3 separate regions of the Homo sapiens genome follow, and all the other regions are reported to be linked to region 1. Evidence: microRNA targets listed by miRTarBase, many of them from high-throughput screens and not tested one by one. Region 1 holds a microRNA gene; each other region holds the end of a gene's coding sequence.

Region 1 (8,220 bases):
GTTTCCTGAGGTCTCCCTAAAAGCCGAGCAGATGCCAGCACTATGCTTCCTGTACAGCCTGCAGAACTGTGAGCCAATTAAACCTCTTTTCCTATAAATTACCCAGGCTCAGGTATTTCTGTATAGCAATGCAGGAACGGCCTAATCCAATGGGTCTCAAGCTCAGATACGTGCTAGAATTATCTGAGGAGTTCCAAATGTACTAATAACTGGAACATTTTTGGAGATTATGATTTGATTGGCCTGCGGCGTGGCCTAGGCGTAACAAGTTCTTTATAGTTTCTCCAGTGATTCAAACGTGCAGCCAAGTTTGAGAACCACTGGTAAGTCATTTATTACTAAATTACTGAGAATCTTAGGTCATGGGAAAGGGTTCAACTTTAGATACTTCAGAGCTGATAACTTCGTGGCTTCCGTGCCCATTTTAAATTTATCTAGGCTGAATACATTTATTTGATAATAAGTCTGATTTTTAAAGGTTAAGATCCAGGGTGTCCTAAGGATAAAGATTTAAGGCTACATGGCCAACCCATTACTCCTCTCAGGATAAGAATATGAAAAAAATAACATTTCTTAGCAAGTATAATAGTATTAGCAACTAATATTTCTTAGCAAGTAGTATTAGTAATACTTCTTCTACTATTTCTTAGCAAGACTTTGAAACACTAACACATTTAAAGGAATACTGTCATTTCCTTCTTTGAATCTTTTGGTAACTTTTTGTCAAAGGGTAATATATATTTCTGTGGGCATTTTAAACATGAAAATTAGCACCAGGAGTCTCAGAAAACATTAAGGTGTTTACCCGCCTTGAAACAGAGATTAACTCTTGTAGCTTGGATTTCCTAGCTTCACTGATGTGAGAACCCACATACACCAAATCACCTTAGAAAGGGAAATCTCAGAAAGCTTGTTTCAGATTCACTGTGGATGCTTACAAGGTGAATTTAGAAGCTATTCCTGTATGAAATACTGTTAATGACACAGAACTGCTGGGGTGTATCCTGCAGCTTCCTTCACATACTCTGTGCCCCAGATTGAAGACGCTGGGCTTGAATTCAGGAAGCATCTTTGAGGTTTCTAGCTCTGAACACTTGCATTTATATGAGGATAAGTAAGTGGAAGGGAAACAAAATAATGCACTGGAATCTAGGGGAAAGGTATTGTTTCTTTTTTCTTTCCTACCACTAATGTCCTGTGCTTTCTCTGTGCTGATACCCACATGGAAGGGTCCATATTTCACAACTCAAACCCATGACCATGTCAAGCCAACAGGTGCCCTGAATAGCACCTACTGAAATTGGAGGACCCAGTGCTGCTCTTTCATTCAAACGAGATAATGAAGCATCAGGAACACAGGCCAAAATGATCCTAGGCATTGCACTAAAGCTACTGGGGTATGGCAACATTTATTTAGAAAGTGGGAAGCCAATTGTAAAAGAAAAAGATGAGATGAAAATAGTAAGATGAAAAACAGAGAGGGAAGTCTGTTTTGAACAACCATCTAATTTCAGTTCACTGTCAGACTTAGGGGGATTGAACTCATACTGTATAATGTTCCTCATCATTCTGGGAAAGTGCCCACATTCAGAGATGATGGTGCAGAATTGAGTGTTCTTTAATTTTTGCACATCAGTAATTAACGTTGTCACATGGTTGGCTCAGGTCACACTCAGGCTTCAGATAACCAGGCACATTCCAATGGAAGAAAACATCTTTCAAGCACTCATATGTTGGGAATGAATTAGGGTGTTTGTGGTTCATTGTATGTGTGTTTTTAAACATAATTTCTTATTTTCTGATCATCTCTATCAGTGTGCATAATAAGGACAACTCTGTGCTATGGTATGAATATTTGTTTCCTCCAAAACTCACACTGAAATGCAATCCCTAATGTGGCAGTATTGTGAGGTGGGGCCTTTTAGAGGTGACTGAATCACAAGGGTTCTGCCCTTATGAATAGATTAACCCATTTGTGGATTAATGGGTCATCACAGGAGTGGGCTGGTGGTTTTTTAAGAGGAAGGGAGACCTAAGCTAGCACATGAGCACGCTCAGCCCCCCAGCCATGTGATGCCCCACAATGCCTCAGGACTCTGCAGAAAGAGTTCCCCACAGCAAGAAGGTTCTCACTAGATGCAGCCCCTCCACCTTGGACTTCCCAGCCTCCACAACTGTAAGAAATAAAGAAAAGGTTCTTTATAAACTACCCAGTTTCAGCTATTTTGTTATAAGTTATAGAAAACGAACTAAGACACCGTATTCTTTCTTAAGAATTAATTTCTTCATAACTGAGATGAGTCACAATTAAAAAGAGCAGCATGTTTTGCTTTGTTGATGTTTTTTAAACGAGGGGTGTGTAATACACATCCACCTCTCCAAATTGCAGTTTTATGATAGATCATTGTTAAATGCTAAGGTGGTCTGAGCTTATAGTTCTATTATATCCTGCTAATAAAAGACTATGATCAAGGATGTCAACTCAAGAAACTTCCTAGTGTAACCTCCAGGGCTATTTGCAAATTCTCAGGAATGACATTACAAATAGGTTGTGGCTAATAAACTCGTTACTATTCACCTAGTTTTCTTTCTTTCTTTTTTTTTTCGAGATGGAGTCTCGCTCTGTCGCCCAGGCTGGAGTGCAGTGGTGCACTCTCTGCTCACTGCAAGCTCCGCCTCGTGGGGTCACACCATTCCCCTGCCTCAGCCTCCCAAGTAGCTGGGACTACAGGCGCCCGCCACCACGCCCGGCTTTTTTTTTTTTTTTTGTATTTTTAGTAGTGACGGGGTTTCACCGTGTTAGCCAGGATGGTCTTGATCTCCTGACCTTGTGATCCGCCCATCTCTGCCTCCCAAAGTGCTGGGATTACAGGCGTGAGCCACAGCACCCAGCCCTAGGGAATTTGTTTTTAAAGAAGACTCTCCTACTAAAAAGTGAAGAAAAATAAACAAACAAAAAACAGAATAAAGATGGGGGCAAGGGAGTGGAGGGAACCAGTGTAATCAACAATTCAAAAGTGAAATTAAAAGCTTTCTTCCCCACTCCAACTAGTAAAGACTATTACTGACACATTTTCAAATACAAAGAGAAGATCTTCCCTCAAAAAGTTATTTCCGGCCGGGCGCGGTGGTCACGCCTGTAATCCCAGCACTTTGGGAGGCCGAGGCGGGCAGATCACGAGGTCAGGAGATAGAGGCCATCCTGGCTAACACAGTGAAACCCCATCTCTACTGAAAATACAAAAAAATTAGCGGGGCGTGGTGGCGGGCACCTGTAGTCCCAGCTACTTGGGAGGCTGAGGCAGGAGAATGGCGTGAACCCAGGGCAGGTGGCTTGCAGTGAGCCGAGATCGCGCCACTGCACTCCAGCCTGGGCGACAGAACGGGACTCCGTCTCAAAAAAAAAAAAAGTTATTTCCAAAGATGGTAATGAGCTCCTTTGTCCTAAATCTTTGGCCTCTTTACAGTTTCTTTAAAAACAAAAAAGAAGTTGTCCAGGCAGTATGGCTCACGCCTGTAATCCCAGTACTTTGCGAGGCCAAGGCGGGAGGATCACTTGAACCCAGGAGTTTGAGACCAGCCTGGACAACACGGTGAAATCCCGTCTCTCCAAAAAGAAAAAAAAAATACAAAAATTAGCTGGGTGTGGTGGCACGTGCCTGTGGTCCCAGCTACCCAGGAGGCTAAGGTGGGAGGATCTCCTGAGACTGGGAAGTTGAGGCCGCAATGAACCATGACTGCACCACTGCACTCCAGCCTGAGTGACAGAGTGAGACTCCATTTCAAAAACATGAATAAAATAAAATTAAAAGTTGTGTTAAAATCAGGAAGAAGCCAACAGTGGGCCAAAGGCGGAGATGTGCGCATACACACACCTGTCTGTATGTAGGCATAAATGTCTGGCCACCTTCCTTAAGCCCAGTTTAAAGTCCCACAGTTGCTGGACCCACAGTGTTTGAGTTGCTATTTCATCAGAGGTGGGGCTTGGGGCGCAAAGCCGTTACTGTTTAGTTCACTAGGCAGGCAGAGAACCTGGCAGAATGATTTGTCTCAGGGGGAGGACGCTGAAAACAGTGGAGGGGTAAAGAAACACGGGGAGGAAGGAGGAGGTGGGAGCAAAGTGCCGTAAATCGTAAAAAGCCGGCAAAAGCCTGTTTCCAGATTCATTCCCAGTCTCATGAAGCCCCGTCGGGATGTGTGAAGCTTAATCCAGGGAGCCTTAGGGGAAGCGAACTCGAATCTGGGGGAGGAAGACTGGCAGGTGTGGAACCCTGCAGTAAGGGTGTGGGGCGAGATGAACCCCCTGATGGGTTTTTTTCCCCATGCATCCTTTTTCCTCTCTCTTTTTATCCTTGTAGAGTGAGGGATGATGCTGCTGGTGGACTAAGTGTCTGCAGAGCTGATGTTTTTGATAATAAATAAACACATGAAAGCTCTGCTTAATACAACAGCCGTTAGGACATCACAAGAGAACGCGGCACAAGGATGCTCCAGCTGCGCTGCAGATTGGGGCGGGTGGAGTGGGCAGGGGAGGGACAGGGAGGCACAGTCTGTTATGGTCCCCACTGCCCTTTTGCCATGTCCACTGCACATGAGGGACCCTGGAACGGCATTGCGGCACGTTGTGTGCAGACACCTCACATAAAACCCACAAACCTAGGCTTCATAAAACACAGAGAAGGGACCCAGGAGTGCCAGGCATGAGGCTAGGCAGCAGGGCCCTGAAGATAGATAAAACACAGTCCCTGAAACCAGGTGGCTCCCAGGCCAGTGTGAGAAGACAGAAGTGTACGTAAACATCATGACACAGCACGACCAATGTCCTGCCAGAGAGCCAGACACAGGGCTATGCGGGCACAGCCCTGCCCTGGCATCTGACCCTGCCCCTGGCACGCTGGTCGGGCTGCTCCCCAGGATCAATCTGCGCTCCAGTCTGGGCTGGTGAGCCCTGCACAGGAAGGCAAAGGAAAAGAGCATGTCAGAGAGAGGGAACCACATCAGCAAGGGCAGAGAAGCATGAGGGCACTACAGCCAAACAGAACACTCACGTGGTCGGCAGCCCCTCCAAGGGTAGAGGAGGGACTGCTGTGAGGGGCTTTGTCACCAAGGTCACCTGTGCGGGTTTTATCCTAAAGGAACTAAAAAGTAATATGCCAAGTGTAAAACTTCAGCTCCAGAAAAACTAAAGGCGGTGTTTTCTCTTGCAGAGATGCTGAAGTTGAACACGGTGAAATCGTTCCTGGGAAACCCTGCTTGGAGTCCTGACCCTCTCGCTCCCACTCATGGGGTGACTTGAAACTTGGAACTTCACTTTACTCCACTTTTAATTTCCCAAGTGAAAAGTTGATATACATTTTTGTTTCATCATGAACAAGTGGAGAAAGTCCATTTGACCAGAGTGTAAATGTCGAGATTTCCTTGGAGAATGAGTTGGAGTTAGGAGCTCTTCAGAGGTGATGATGGCAAAACGTATCCTGCAACATGTCAACTTCATTATTCTTTTCACCAACATTTTTTTTTGTTTCTAAAGAAAAGGGGGACTGCCAGAGGAAAGAAAAACAAAAAACAAAAACATGATCTGTCATTATCTGGGGTTTCTTTCTTTGGCGTATTCCTATATCTCCAGAATTAGAATACCATTGACTGAATACCTGTGTCTTCAGAAAATACCCTGTACATGTCTGAAAGATTTTCTCCTCTTTAACAACAAACACCTTGAATGCAGAAGGCACCAGCTACTTGGTGGAATTTCCGTGGACGCAGAGGGGACCAGCCTTAACCCATATCGAGTTCCCATGGGCTCCCCCCAGCACACAGCTCCTGGCCATTTGCCAGCCGACCTCCCCTTTCTTTCAGACACACATCCATCTATCTGCTGGCTCTTTTCTTCCTATCTTAACATTCACTCACACTTGGAACCTGACAACACAGCGCAGAGTCAAGGTAATGAACTTTCTGTGTAAACTGCCTCTCTGTGTTAGTGTGTACGCCAACTTGGCAAAGCACAGATTGTAAAAGATATTGAGTTGCTGGGTGTGGGAGCACGTGCCTGTCATCCCAGCTACTCGAGAGACAAAGTGAGAGGCCTGCTTGAAGCCAGGAGGTCAAGACCAGCCTGGGCAACATAGTAAAACCCGGTCTGTAAAAACATTTTTAAAAATTAGCTGAGCATGGTGGTGGGTGTCTGTAGTTCCAGCTACTCAGAAGGCTGAGGCGGTGGATGACTTGAGCCCAGGAGGTCAAGGTTATGACTGCACCACTGCTCTCCAGTCTAGGCAACAGAGCAAGACCTTGTCTCCAAAAAATTAAAAAATAAATTCAAACAGATGCCTATTATACAAAATCTCTTCAGATGAACACTAGCCCCTGATTTCTACACGTACTAAAAAAGGATCTTTGAAGTGAAGATTAAATAAAAAGAGAGACCGGGTGTGGTGGCTCACACCTGTAATCCCAGCACTTCGGGAGGCTGAGGTGGGTGGATCACCTGAGGTCAGGAGTTCAAGACCAGCCTGGCCAAGATAGCGAAACCCCACCTCTACTAAAAATACAAAAATTAGCCAGGCATGGTGGCGCATGCCTGTAATCCCAGCTACTTGGGAGGCTGAGGCAGAAGAATCGCTTGAATCTGGGGGGCGGAGGTTGCAGTGAGTCAAGATCACACCACTTCACTCCAGCCTAGATGAAAGAGCGAAACTCCATCTCAAAAAAGTAAGTAAGTAAATAAATAAATAAATAGCAAGCGAAAGACACTGAAGTCCATCTAGCGGAGTAGCCATTACTGATCATCAATATCCCTGCGGAGCACTGAAAACATAACCATTACCAGCTCTTACCCAGTCCTACTGAAACGCCATCGCTAGGCAGGGGGAACCTGGGAATCAGGAACATTTTTAAAAGTCTCTAGTAACTCTAATGATTAGGTAAATCTGGAAACCAATATTCTAGCCAGCCCTCCATTTACAGACGGGAGAATTAAGTGAGTGCCCCACGAACTCTTAGCTGGTTACAATGGCTGTATGTCCTGGAATATAATGTCTTTAAGGTCTATAAAAAATAGCTTTTTTATAAAGTTATAAATCAAAACAGCAAATGATTCAATAAAGAATGTTCTACCCTCTACCAGGTTTGAATTTTGAATTCTTGGACTCTTCGCAAGATGGCATCATGGCAAGAGTGGCCTCCTCGATGCTTTGCATCCTATCTCTGACTGTCCAGAACTTTGGCCTGCAGATCCAAGCTCCATCTGCACACCTGCACACAGACCTGCCTTGGCCTAAGGACATCCCATCAACAGTGCTGCCGGCTCTCAGGAGGAGGGTCCCAGGAAGCAGTCCATATGGGCCCCAGAAGTGCATTCAAAGTTGCTTCAGAAGAATTTCTGAGGTCAAGAACTCCTGAGTAAGCACACACCCACAAGCATTGGGTGGAAAGATGTCCTTGGCCCTATGTCCTTCACCCTGCAGACATCTCACTCCATGGGAAGGGCATGGCTGGCTCATGGCCAGGACAGAATCTCCTAAAGCAGGGGTTCCTCTTACCCAGGTCTAAGAATGGAACATTCTTCTGGAATACAGAACAATTCCCGCCCAACTGAAAGTCAGCCTCTCTCCCTCTCAATATATATTCATAGATGGAAATATGTATATATATATTTACAACAACTGCTTTTCTACAAAGCATTGGTATACAGAAAAATTTTAAGGAAACTGTAATATGTTTCTGAAGTAAAAAACTAGGCGGAGGGCTGGGTGAGGTGGCTCATGCCTGTAATCCTAGCACTTTGGGAGGCCGAGGCACGTGGGTCACTTGAGGTCAAGAGTTCGAGACCAGCCTGGCCAACATGGTGAAACCTAGTCTCTACTAAAAATACAAAAATTAGCCAGGTGTGGTAGCAGGTGCCTGTAATCCTAGCTACTCGGGAGGCTGAGTCAGGAGGATCGCTTCAACTGGGAACAGAGGTTGCAGTGAGCCAAGATCGCGTCACTGCACTCCAGCCTGGGCAACAAGAGTGAGACTCCATTTCAAAAAAAAAAAAAAAAAAAAAAGGCTAGCCTGGGCAAGGAGGCTCACGTCTATAATCCCAGCACTTTGGGAGGCTGAGGTGGGCGGATCACAAAGTCAGGAGTTCGAGACCAGCCTGGCCAACACGGTGAAACCCCATCTCTACTAAAACTACAAAAATTAGCCAGGCGAGGTGGCACATGCCCTATAATCCCA
Region 2 (3,000 bases), not on the chromosome of region 1:
CGGGACTCAGAGCTGCTGCGGCAGTGCCGTGGCTCAGAGCAGGTGCTCTGGGGGCTGCCCTGCTCCTGGGTGCAGGTGCCCGCCCATGAGTGGGGACACGCAGAGGAGCTGGCCAAGGTGGTGCGCGGCCGCATCCTGCAGGAGCAGGCCCGCCTCGTGTGGGTGGAGTGCGGCAGCAGCAGAGGCTGCCCCAGCAGCAGTGAGGCCTGAGGCTCATCTGATACCTGCACCTTCTCCCCAAGCCAGCGTGGACCCTGGTGTCTATGGTGAAGCTGGGCCCTCCCACCCTGAGCCTTCCTAGACCCTTGGACTCTCAGATGCAGGGCCCTTGGCTCTGGCCTCTCACCCCCAAGGCTGTCTCTGGCCCTGCCGAGCCTATGGGAGTCCCGGGACAGAGTGCCCACTCCCCTCTACTTGCTGCTCTGGGCCTCCCCACCTTTCCTGGGGTCTCCACATTCCCACTAGTGGGTCTTATGTGTGTCTGTGTCTTCTCCTTAAACACTCGCCCTGGAGTCTGTTCTCACACCTGTGCGCAGGTTTGCACACTCAAGTTCTCATGGGCAGGCTCAGGTCTGTCCCGCTGCCCTGGGCACGAGGTCTCCTGAGGACCTGGGCCTGTTCTGCTCCTAGGAGACCTGAGCCCGTTACCGCGTGACTCCCACCATCCAGCTCGCGCTCCTCGTGGATTCAGCCATGCATGGACTGGGGTGTTCCCTGGCCCATGGTCACCTGTGCCCCTCGTGTCTCCTCACATGGGTGTCTGTGGTTCTCTCCTGTGTAAATGTCACGCCCCACCCCTGTTTCATGTGGGCACTAACACGTGTGCGTTCCTGGCGGGCACACTCAGGACCGTGCCTCACAGGGCCCACTCCCTGCCTATGCCTCCCTCTTGGGGGGCCGAGGAGGGCGGCTGCTCTGTCATGAGAATGTACGGCCCGTGGATGATTAACGGGCCTTTTTCACTTAGAAGCTGCACATTATGGAGCATTAAACACTTTTGTCATAGATGCTGGTGGCCTTCTGCTTGCTTGTATCCCTGGCCTGGGTCCCCATCACTCTCCTCATTTGTCTCCCAGCTCAGGCGGATACCACCTTTCAGGTCCCCGCTTGCCTGTCAGGAGGGTCGGATTTCCCGCCTGCCTCTTCCCAGAGCCGCCCGCCATCTGTGCTGGCGTCACCTTACCTGCCCCTGAATGACCAGAGGAGGGCCCCACAGATGGGCCACCCCAACGCTCAGCCCTGCCCACAGCTGATCATCAGAGGAGTGTCCCCTGGAGCAGGGCACCAAAACTGGCAGGGTGTGGCCTCCGACTGAAGGGGCCTGGCTGCTGAGCCCAGGAGCTCAAGAGCAAACCCTTGGTATGCACGCAGGTTCCTGAGACAGCTCTACTGGAGAGAGGATGGTTGCTCCCACTGGGAGCAATCCAGGCAGCCTTACTGGAAGAAGTGCCACTTGAGCTTGGGAGTTGGGATTCCTTTCTTCAGGAACCACTTATTGGACCTACGTGTCCAAGTGCAGGTGACTGTCCTCAGCCACAGTGATGAGGCTGGGCAGGTCCCTGGGGCTTGGGGTTGTGGGTGTACTAACTAGGTAGGGTAGCCTCAAGGGCGAAAGCTCAGAGGCAGCACATGGGTTGGATCTGGCCACCTTGGATGGGGTCGGAAATGAGGTTGGGAAGGGCAAGTCCAGGGGTGGGGTTGGGAGCGCAAAGGAGCTTGGGCTGTGCCCTGGAGGCTGTGGGAGCCTCTCAGGATGTGGGAGCAGGGCTATGGGAGCTCTGGTTTGGAGTTGACTTAGAGAGGGCTGAGGCCAATTGGAGTAGGGGGTGGGGGGCAGGGGCAGTGGAGGAGAGAGGAGCAGACAGGAAGGAGGGGATCTGTGGCCTCCAGGGGTGGGTCTGGATCTCCATGTTTGACAAGAAAAATGCTTAAGAAGGGGTCAGGGCTGGGGATTTGGGGTGGTGGGTGGAGAAGGGAATGGAGAAGCTGGGAGAGGGGATTGGGGTGTGGATCAGGGGGCCACAGCCCCATCTTTAGTGGGAAGAGACAAGGAGTGGGTGTAGGGGAGAGGTGGTGAGGGTCTCAGAGACTGGACCACGCAGGATGACGGTGCTTGGGTATGAGGCCAGGGTGGACGGTGGGCCCAGGCTGTCCCGGGAACCCAGAGAGGCTTTCCCAGGATGGAGTGCAGGGTGCGCAGGGCACTGTAGTTTGGTTGAAACCCAAAGCTCTGGTCAGCCAGGAGACCCTGGCAACTCGGGTGGCCTCTCTGGGCCCAGGGCCCTCCCCTGTGGAGTGGAGGCCCGGATGGTGGAGTGAGCATGGAGGTACGGATTGGCCACGGCTAGGTGAGCACGTGTGGCTGGGGCTGAGCCATTGCTTGGGAAAAGGTCTTCCCACTCTCTACGACAGGGTGTCTTTGACAAGGTGCAGATTGGACTTGGAGGCCTGCCAGTCTGTCACCACTGGGGTAGGGGCTGGGGAGCTGGACCCTGAGTGGCAAAGGCGGTGCCCTGGGGGAAGGGCAGCCTCCCTGCATGGGAATCAGCGGCAATGCCGCTTTCTACTCCAGGCCTTCCCAGGTGTTGACTCTCCCATCCCCCCAGCCACATCCTCCCCACCGCGGGCAGTGGCAGTGGCCTTTCAGTTTACCCTTAGCTGTGCTCCTCTGCTCATGTGGCCCCTGCCTGGGCTGCTCTCCCTGCCTGAATCTTCCTGATCTTTGAAGCCTGGCTGAGATATTACGTATCTCCATGAAACCCACCACCAGGTCCTCCCAGCCCTTGGGACTTCTCCTGGCCCATGCCATATTCTGCCTTGTGGTGGGACGAGGGTGTCTGTGTGGCTGTCTCTCGATGTCTGTGGCTTCCTGGGCATGGAAACTGGGCTGTGTGCATTTGGGTACATGAACCTCCCCCTGCCCCACAGTGAGCCTGGCCCAGTGCTTGGCCTGGGGAAAGGCAGGGGCCTGTGACTTGGCTGCCTTTGCCTGTTCCCCGT
Region 3 (3,000 bases), not on the chromosome of region 1:
TCAAATTGGGACCACCAGGCAGGAATCAGGCGCACGGGTTCCTCCTCTGTGGCTTCCTGTGGCACTCCAAGTGGGAAGAAGAGAAGCTTGGAAGTGAAAGCCTCAGCTTCTCCTTTCTTCAGCCCCTCAAGCCTCAGAAAGATCTGTCAAGCGCGGCCCGCCTCTACAGAGGCCCTGGGGAGATGGTCTAGACCTTGAAATATCCTAGAAGAGGTTTGACAGGTTGGAGCTTTTGCTAGACAGATGGATCACAGATGGGCTTAAGGGGTGGAGGGTGTGTGTGTGTTTGTGAGAGAGAGAGAGAGAGAGAGAGAGAGAGAGAGAGAGATTGCCAGGTGAGGAAGGTGATGAGCTGAAACCAACTTGGAGCTATGCTGTATTATGATGATGAGGATTTGGGTTGGGGGGTGTTACAGGCTCTAACCAGAAATCTGGAAGATGTGATAGGTGGGGCCTTTAAAAAAAAAAAAAACCCTAAACATCTCTTTGTAATCCATCCCTCCTCTGCATCCCTACCGCTACTGCCGCCATCCCCTCTCACTCAAATCTTGCAATAGCCTTTGAAAGGCGCCGCCTGACTCCAGACTGCTGACCACTAGATCAGCACAGCAGCCAGTGGAGTTAGAGCCTTTAACTCACTGTGTTCATCCCTCGCTTAAAACTTTCAGTGACTCCCTTTCACCTCCCCTGCAGGATAAAGCCCAAGCTCCTTGGCATGACTTATGGGCGCAGTGTGATCTGGCTCTGTCTGCCCCTCCAGCCTCATCTTACCATTGCCCCCATCTCACTCTACCCTCCGCTGTGCCTAATGCACTTCTGCCAGGTCCTCTGAATAAGCCTCTCCTTTGCCTGTGGTTCCCTTTGCCTTGGAGCATTTTCTGTCCTTCGCTTCTCCTGGCAGATTCCTACTATGTGTCATGTCTCTACCTAGAAGTCACTTCACCTATGAGCTCCCATAGAGGATCCTGTATTTCTCTTATTTTAATAATGCCTAGCATTATTGAGCATTTATTGTCTAAGTGCTTTACAAATGGTAACTCATTCAGCCTCACAACCACCTTTTTTTGAAGTAAACACCGTTAATATCCTCTCAATCTTACAGATTCAGAAACCGAGGCACAGTTGCCCAAGAACACACAGCTGGTAAGTGGTAGACATGGAATTTGAATGCAGGCAGTCCGGCTCCTGAGCCCAGAGTCCTAATCTCTGTGCCAACTGGCTGATGTAGCATGCTATATGGGGTAGGAGGCTGGGGTTAAGAATCAGCAGGTGATGGGTGGACAGGCAGGACAAATTAGATGGGGATTAAAATGAAAGTGGTGACAAGCAAAACTGTTGCCAAGACTGCAGGTGACAACTGAGAGAGTGAAGGCCAGGCACGGTGGCTCATGCCTGTAATCCCAGCACTTTGGGAGGCCAGAGTGGGAGAGAGTGAGTGGAGATGGACCGCTGCCATAGTGATGGGGTAAGGAGAAGGCCTCTAGGGGTATACGATGACTAAGTGCAGATAAGGCTACTGATGTCAAAACAGGGGTATAGGTGGGACTCATAGCGGACAGACGGAGGTCAGATTGGAGGACTTGATGAAGGAACCAGGCTGGCAGGTTGTGGAGGTGATGGCAGTTATAGAGGTCAAGGGGAGAGTAGCTCAGGACTGTGAGCTTGCAGCCCCAGGGGGAATGCAGTGGCTCTGAGTGCAGATCCCAGGGGTGTTCTAGCAGCAGCAACAGCAGCTGAGGAGCTGGGCTCTGGCCCTCCACCCCGGTGCCCACCTCTGCACTGTTGATGCCGCAGCCCCTCTTGGCCCCTCATCCCCAGCTAGGCACCCCCAGAAAGAGCTCCGTGCAGACAGCAAAGCTCACACCCCCATCTGCAGGGCCCTTTGCAAGTCTTCAGCCTTCTAGGTAAAAATCTAAACACTTTTTGGAAAGTTTTATTTGAAAACTTGGGGACAGGACAGAGACAGCAGGATGGAGACTGTATTCTCCTGCTAGGGTTCTTAGGTCAAAAGCCAGGCTCGGGTCCCTCCCGTCTCTAAGTTCCAGGTCCACTCCAGTCTGTGGACTCCTGAGGAATATACCCACCCACCCACTGTCAGGCCCTTACCCCTCCCCCACCGCCCACTTCCTGTGCCTGAGGAGACACTGAGGCGTGGGGGTAGACTATGAGGGAGCGGGGGTGGGGAGGATCTGGTTAAACTCCAGAAGAAGGAAGTGAGAACCTGGGAGTTTGGGGGCTAAGAGGAACAGATAGAAAAAAGAAATAAGGAGGGGGCTACTGTCTTTGCCTCCTCCATCACGAAAGCTTTGCCCTGAGATGTCTCCCTTGAAGCTCAGATAGGAAGTCCGGGGTAGATCACATCCTGTGACTTGGCAATGGCGCCCGTCTTTGGGTGCTGGTTGGGAAACAGTCATGCCCCTGCTACGGGGGGCTGGGGCAGTGCACGCCCCGCTGTGCCAGGCCCTCCATCTCAGCTGGCTGCAGGCTGGCTGTTGGCATAGGCCTGATCCGGGAAGGAGGCCCGGGCCCTGCGGGTCTGGGCACATACTGAGGCATAGAGCTCCGGCTCGGGGCCCGAGGCCTGGGACTTTGGCTCAGAGTCCAGCACCACCTCCGAGTACTTGACGGGGGTTCCAGGACCGGGGATCCGACCCTGAGGAGGCCGCAGCTGCAGGCTGGTATAGCACATCACCTCCTCTGCAGCCTGGAGATGCAAGGCTGTTAGAAGTTCACTGGACCCTCGGAAAAGCCCGAAAAGCCCCCCACTTCCTTCCCTCCCCCTTTTCTCCAGCCACAGTTGACTCACCCTGGCAGGGCCTCCAAGAGTTGGATCCTGCTGGTCTGGCTCTGGGTCTTGAGACAGCCGTCCTGGGACGGGGAACAGGAATCTGGTCAGCAACTTGTCCTTCCTCCTGCACGCCCCCATCCCAGCCACCCAGGACCTGGCCTCTGTGCCCCTCCTCTCTGCCAGCTCCCTACCTGTCTGTAGATAATGCAGGT

What was found. The annotated mature microRNA hsa-miR-4481 reads GGAGUGGGCUGGUGGUU and lies in region 1 at 1,997-2,013, shown strand. An mRNA with a match to its seed (bases 2 to 7 or 8) in the 3' UTR can be bound and repressed. Matches are read on the target gene's strand: a 7mer-m8 pairs with bases 2 to 8, a 7mer-A1 pairs with bases 2 to 7 and ends in A, and an 8mer does both.
Region 2: the mRNA of CARD10 is a reported target of hsa-miR-4481. Seed matches in the 3' UTR shown: 7mer-m8 at 400-406 and 7mer-m8 at 865-871.
Region 3: miRTarBase lists SIT1 as a target of hsa-miR-4481. The part of its 3' UTR that is shown has no 7-base or 8-base seed match.

The regions. Positions count from the first base shown.
Region 1 is chr10:12,646,974-12,655,193 of GRCh38, reverse strand. It overlaps MIR4481 (microRNA 4481), which reads left to right and starts at 1,997; the gene lies at 1,997-2,056. All of the region lies in intron 2 of CAMK1D (calcium/calmodulin dependent protein kinase ID), which reads right to left.
Region 2 is chr22:37,488,369-37,491,368 of GRCh38, reverse strand. It overlaps CARD10 (caspase recruitment domain family member 10), which reads left to right. Exons shown (of 20, transcript NM_014550.4): 20 at 1-1,007. The coding sequence ends at 210. Among named protein-coding and RNA genes, the nearest start is that of MFNG, 3.5 kb to the right of the region's middle.
Region 3 is chr9:35,647,378-35,650,377 of GRCh38, forward strand. It overlaps SIT1 (signaling threshold regulating transmembrane adaptor 1), which reads right to left. Exons shown (of 5, transcript NM_014450.3): 3 at 2,980-3,000; 4 at 2,807-2,868; 5 at 1,918-2,704. The coding sequence ends at 2,471. It overlaps LOC101926948 (a long non-coding RNA gene), which reads left to right. Exons shown (of 2, transcript NR_135130.1): 2 at 1-99. Among named protein-coding and RNA genes, the nearest start is that of SIT1, 2.1 kb to the right of the region's middle. RefSeq lists an enhancer at 2,305-2,354.